Homo sapiens: one gene and its partner. The protein of the gene in region 1 purifies or fractionates together with the protein of each later gene. This does not show direct contact. Each region holds a gene or a part of one and is shown on either strand. Other genes may lie near its edges.

Region 1 (3,500 bases):
GCTGCCAGTTTGTTAGTTTTTTTTTAGTTTTTGAGGTTTTTTAGAGACAGGATCTTGCTCTGTTGCCCAGGAGGGAGTGCAGTTGCAGTGGTACAGTCAAAGTTTAAGTTTACTGCAGCTTTGAACTCCTGGGCTCAATTGATCCTCTTGCCTTAGCCTCCCAAGTAGCTGGGACTACAGGCGCGTGCCACCACACCAGGCTAATTTTTAATTTTTTTGTAGAGATGGGGGACTTGCTATTTTGCCCAGTCTGGTCATGAACTCCTGGCCTCTAGCAGTCCTCTCATCTTGGCCTCCCAGAATCCTGGGATTACAGGTGTGAGCCCTTGTGCCTTGCCCATTGTTCGTTTTTAATTAGATTTTGTGTGAATATCTTTGAAGGGATTTCTAACATTTTTTATATACGTATATATTTTAGAATTTTTATCTTGACACATTGACCTTTACTAGAGGTTCAATTTTTGACTCTTGGCAAGTAGCAAGAATGGAGTTTTATCTTTAAAATTCAAACATAATCTTTACTATAGAAGAAAGAGTTTTAGCAGAGGTTTCTCTGAAATTTACACACAAAAAAAAAAAAAAAAAAAGAAGAAAGAAAACTTTCGGAATTGCCCCTACACAGACTTCTGGTTTTGATACTTATAAACCAGCTTATCTGCTGAGTATATTCTTTGGTTTCATACAATATTTTGTTTTGAGGGAAAGCTAAGGTTCATTGTGCTGTGAGAAGTAGAACTAACGTAAGAAGTTAAAGATTTCTGAGAACGTGCAGACATAATTTAGGGTTGTATTTTTCTGAGTGTTTATGATTTTTGCAGAACCATTGACTGATGACTTTTAACTCTAGCTCACAGAAATCTATCCTAAATTCTGTAACATATGAGAAATTTTCTTTTTTCTTTCATACTCGTTACCTTAGGGAACCAAACAGTTTGTTTGGGGAAGATAATGGAGAGATAAAAAGAGGCCTGGATGCTAGCTTTCTATATTATATTTTTCAGATGTCATAAACAAAGTTTACCAGAGGAAATTTCTTCCTGTCTAAATACAAAGTCTGAAGCTCTGAGAACAAAACCAGATGTCTGCAAAGCAGGGTTGCTCTCAAAGTCCTCTCAGATTGGAACTGGAGACTTGAAAATTCTGACTGAGCCAAAAGGCAGCTGTACTCAGCCTAAGACAAACACTGATCAGGAAAACAGATTGGAGTCTGTTCCACAAGCATTGACTGGCCTTCCTAAGGAGTGCTTACCTACAAAGGCTTCTTCTAAGGCAGAATTGGAAATTGCCAATCCTCCTGAACTGCAGAAGCACCTAGAACATGCACCTTCCCCATCGGATGTTTCAAATGCACCAGAAGTGAAAGCAGGTGTCAATAGTGATAGCCCTAATAACTGTTCAGGAAAAAAGGTAGAACCTTCAGCTTTAGCTTGCCGATCACAGAATTTAAAGGAATCTTCAGTAAAAGTAGATAATGAAAGCTGTTGTTCAAGAAGCAACAATAAAATCCAGAATGGTGAGTGTTTCTCAATATCTTTATTGGTAGAAGGTAAGAAATGGTAGATATATATATCTCTTTCTTGTCCTATGAGAAACTATGTGAAAATGACTTTGTAGAAATAGTTTATACAGTCAGAAAAGTTGAAAGAAGGTATAATTCCCAAATCTCAGAAACGATTACTGTTAATATTTTGGTGTACCTGGTTTCATGTATATAGAAATACAGATAAACTGTATTACACAAATGGGTTCATGCCAATAATTTTACCCTGTGAATTAGTGTAGGTGTCTATTAGTATTTTAAAGCAAGGATTCCATTATGTTCATTTACCATAGGATTTAACTGGTTCCTATTAGGTGGGTAATTAGGTGGTTCCCAATTCTTAGGTTAAGAAAATTTTGAAACAAAATCTAAAGTAATCTGGTGTTTACTTTATTTCAGCTTGTCACTGATCTTTCTGTTACATCCAGGTTGGAGTAGGAAGAGGTGATCTGTGACAGGTAGCTAAGATTTGAAATTTTAGAAAAGATGCAGAATTGTATCATTTCTGGAAAAAGGACTTGGGTTAAAGATGTTACGGATAGGGCTGAACTACCAGGAAGAGTCTCTTTGCTTAAGGGGAGGTCCTGCTGCACCCACAATTTAAAACTACTCTTCTTATGGGGAAATTGGTACGTTGTACTTGATGCTACTTATATGAAGTTTGAGGATGCATTATAATGGTGGTAGTTATCAGAAGCTCTGTTACTAGAGTTAGAAGAACAAAATGTTTTCAGCATGTCAAAAGGTTTAGAGCTATTAGAATTTAAAGATGCCTTTTGATCACTGTTAGCTATGTGGGAAATTGATATGGATTTTGTTAATGTTTTAGGCTGGGCATAGTAGCTAACACCTGTAATCCTAATACTTTGGGAGACCACTGTGGGAGGATTGCTTCAGACCAGGAGTTTGAGACCAGCCTGGGCAACATAGTGAGACCCCATCTCCACAAAAAATTTTTTTAAAAATCAGCCAGGCATGGTGGGGCACACCTGTTATTCCTAGCTACTGGAGAAGCTGAGGCAGGGGGGTTGCTTGACCCCAGGAGTTGGAGGCTGCGGTGAGTTATGATTGTACCACTGTACTCTAGCCTGGGCAACAGAGTGAGAGCTTGGCTCAAAAAACAAACAAACGAAAACAACCTACGAAAACAATTTATTTATTTGGATCAGTAAAAATGAATATATCTACACTATCTTTTTAACTGCAGGCCTCTGTGAAATTAGAGGGCAAGATGGCTGGATTTGACTTGCGAATCTTTTTAGTATAGCATTGGAAGAATAGAAAGAACTTTCTTTGCCTAGCAATACTTCTAACCTAGCTTCTTCATTGAGGCTTAAGTTAATATAGCTGTTAATTTGCATAAAATTAATTGCATAAGATTATCCTGTTCTCAGAAATTAGGTAACACTCAAAAGAAAGTACATATTCATAACCATATCCTTGTTCTATTTGTTGTTTTTGAATCATCAGCTCTCACACACAGCTAGTTTTTGAAGCAAATTTAATATTATGTGACGAAACAGTAAAGATTCTAGTGCAATAAGCACATGATAGATACACAAGTGAGTTACGGAGTCCAGCTTTGTCTCATTTAATATGTTATGTAGCTATTCCCCATCTAATGGATTTTAAAAGAAGTGAAAAACTTACATCCTGGAGTAGCACATCCTGCTATCTACTGTGACTTTTTTTTTTTGGTTGAGGTGTGAGAGTGTGATCAGAAGCCTACCGGGACTTCTGAGCTGTGTCCACTAGTACTGCATGTTAGTACAGAAGGCTTGGAAAACTTTTCTGCTCCTTTCTTCCACTTGGGGTCTAGAAAACAAAAGCAAACTGGAGTCAAACAGCTGCCTTTTTTTCCGTTCAGATAGATACGTGGCTCCTCGGAAGTGGGCGTTGCATTTTTCTCTTGACTTGGCTTTGAATTCAGAGAATCACTGATGGTAGCACCTGTTGCTCT
Region 2 (2,743 bases), on another chromosome or scaffold:
TCCGGATAAGACGGAGGTCACTGGTGACCACATTCCCACTCCGCAAGACCTTCCTCAACGGAAGCCGTCCCTTGTTGCTAGCAAGCTGGCTGGCTGATTAAGAGGCTGAACTGCATGAATCTGCTAAATCTCATTATTTCTCCTTAATATGTTACTTATCTACTTTTTATTTCCTTTCATTCACTAGTCATTTGAGACTGACAGCTTTGCAGGTAGCAGTAGTGTGTGCTGCTATTGTGGAATATACGTGTGTAGAGTTTTTGATTAGTTTAACAGTGCACTGGTGAAGAGGACATGTTAGAGCAACATAAGTAAACTACTTGAAAATAGTTGTATATATTACCTAACTTCTAGTGTAGTACTGGTTCTAACAAGTAACAAGCAAGTTTTAAAATTTTAATGTTTTGGCTTTCATTACTTCATCTTAATTATAGCTTTGTATGTTACTCTTATTTAATATAATCTCTATTGTATTGATTTCTTCTGTATTTACCTTTTGGATTTTGTAAAACAGAAGTTTAAGACCACAAGTTAGAAGAAAGGTCACATATTTCAAACACAACTAGATGGGGCTCTGAAAGATTTGTATCTCTGTGCTTGAACTTGAATGGCCTTAAACCTGTTTCAGCTTTAACAGTAGAATTTTACTTGGGCAATATTTGCCCATTCTGGTGTAACTTATGTGACTCTAGTGCTTAACAGCTGCCGTTGAAGCTAATATTCAGTTCTGTAGAGTTAGAATACCTTTTGTTGTTGAAGATGTGAATGAAGTATGCATGTGCATTAACTGTTGAATTCACTTTTGTGCCATTTTTGTAAATACAGTAGTTTTGCACAACCTCTCACAAATGTCTGTATTAATTTCACATACTTAAAAAGTAGATAATGTGCCAACCAGAAGCACAAGAGTTCCTACACAAAACTCTGTAAATCATTATAGCTTTTGTATAATAAGAGTAGTTTACAATCTCGGGCTTATAGAATACCAAACTGAAATCTTAGTTCAATCTGCCATAGACTTAAGCTTTTCATTTGTTACTAATATCCATGACATTCAGTGGCCTTGTGCAAATACGATATGTTGCTTAGGCATATCTTTTGTCCTATGCAGAACCTTTCATTTTGATTTTTATGAAAGTTGCAATTCATGTAATTTATATAAACTTTTTAAATGTAGAAACTTTTTACTTCCACACTCAGTTTTGGAGACCCTAGAATAAAAGGCTTCAATACTCTGCATTCCATGCCCTCTGCCACCTGCTTTTTTTTCCCCTTTGTTCTTTGACTCAAATGGTATTGAGCTGTTTGTTGTATATGGAAGCATAGGTGTCTATATCCTTACTCTTTTATATAACACAATAATGGCGTTTTCCTTCTAATTTCTCAGTTGTTAACTTCTTTCTCTTTTTTTTTTAGGATAGGGCCTTGCTCTGTCACCTGAGCTCTAGTGCAGTAGTGCAATCACAGCTCACTGCAACCTTACTCCTAGGCTCAAGTTAACTATTCTTGATCCTTTATTATTACTAATATTCTACAATTGTTTAAATAAAAGGAACTTTATAATGAAACGGTTCGGAATACTGGCTCAAGAACCTATGTCAAGATGAGCTGAATTTTGGTAAATTATTTTAGGAATTATGACAAGCTAATTGAATTAGGCTTGTGACAATTAGAGTAATTTACATGACAGGTAAAACTCCTATTAAAAATGTTTAGATGTTTGCTTCTGTAGATGTCACTTTAGTAAAATACCAATTTAGTTTTACTTGTGGCTTATCTAGTTAGAACTTAGCAGACTTTACTGGGACAAGTTTACTGCTCTTGTAGGAGCTCCTCTCACAAGTAGTTGTAATGCTGTAGCATGATACTCAGGATCAGTAGCTTGAGATGCTACTATTTTTCTCTTCATCTTTGACTTGCAGAGAGCCTCCCGTTTTTGGATCCAGGCATCTTTTCTGAATCCTGGTTCCATCAGTATACCTGCTCTCCTATGACCCCAAATCATAGTCAATGGTGCCTCAAACATAGCACCTTAAGTTAAAGGCTGCCTAGTGCTCTGAGGAAAGCTTGCTGATTATCTTCCTGATCTACTCACCCCAAAAGGCAGAAAAGCAACACAGTCACTGCTGTGGTCATTTGTAATGTAAAGATCAGTTATATATATATATTTGTAATGAGAGCAAGTATATACTCATTATAGAATCAATTTAAGAAGTTTAAAATAACCCAGAGTAGAATTTCTATATCTAGTCTTGGTTTTTTTCATGAATATTTGCAAGTAATTACCATTAAATTCACACATGAAAGATTAATCTGAAAGATCAGAGACCATGTTATTCCTGACCACGATAGAACTGCTCCTGTGGTTTGGGACAAGTAATAAAACAACTGCTTGAGTTTTGTTTGTAAAATACATAATTAATATTTGACCTACCTCAAAATGTATTGAGGATCTGTGAAATGCTAAGTGCCCAAAATAAAATATTGCTGATTGTCTTTTTATTAAAAGTAAATTTCCTCATTAAGCCAACCTGCCTTCTGTAAGTCACAGTGCTTAAATCTCAGGATTTTTCATTAGGAGAGACCTGTCGTTAAGGATTTGTAGGTATAATTGCTTAGCCTCCATTATTGGTGCTTGGGATAGAGAGGTTTTAGATTTTTGTTTTTTTTTTGTTCTGCCTCAAAGCTCAGTTTATTGAAGACATTTGTAAGCTATTGGATCATCACTTGAATCAAGATTTTG

The links.
Region 2: the proteins of KDM3A (region 1) and ARPP19 fractionate together in Homo sapiens (co-fractionation; one large-scale study listed by BioGRID). This does not show direct contact.

Annotation. Positions count from the first base shown.
Region 1 is NC_000002.12:86,465,371-86,468,870, forward strand, and holds part of KDM3A (lysine-specific demethylase 3A), read left to right. Parts: intron 1-1,001; coding exon 1,002-1,513; intron 1,514-3,500. UniProt on the Homo sapiens protein: Histone demethylase that specifically demethylates 'Lys-9' of histone H3, thereby playing a central role in histone code.
Region 2 is NC_000015.10:52,549,288-52,552,030, reverse strand, and holds part of ARPP19 (cAMP-regulated phosphoprotein 19), read left to right. Parts: coding exon 1-97; 3' UTR 98-2,743. UniProt on the Homo sapiens protein: Protein phosphatase inhibitor that specifically inhibits protein phosphatase 2A (PP2A) during mitosis. Inhibition of PP2A is enhanced when ARPP19 is phosphorylated.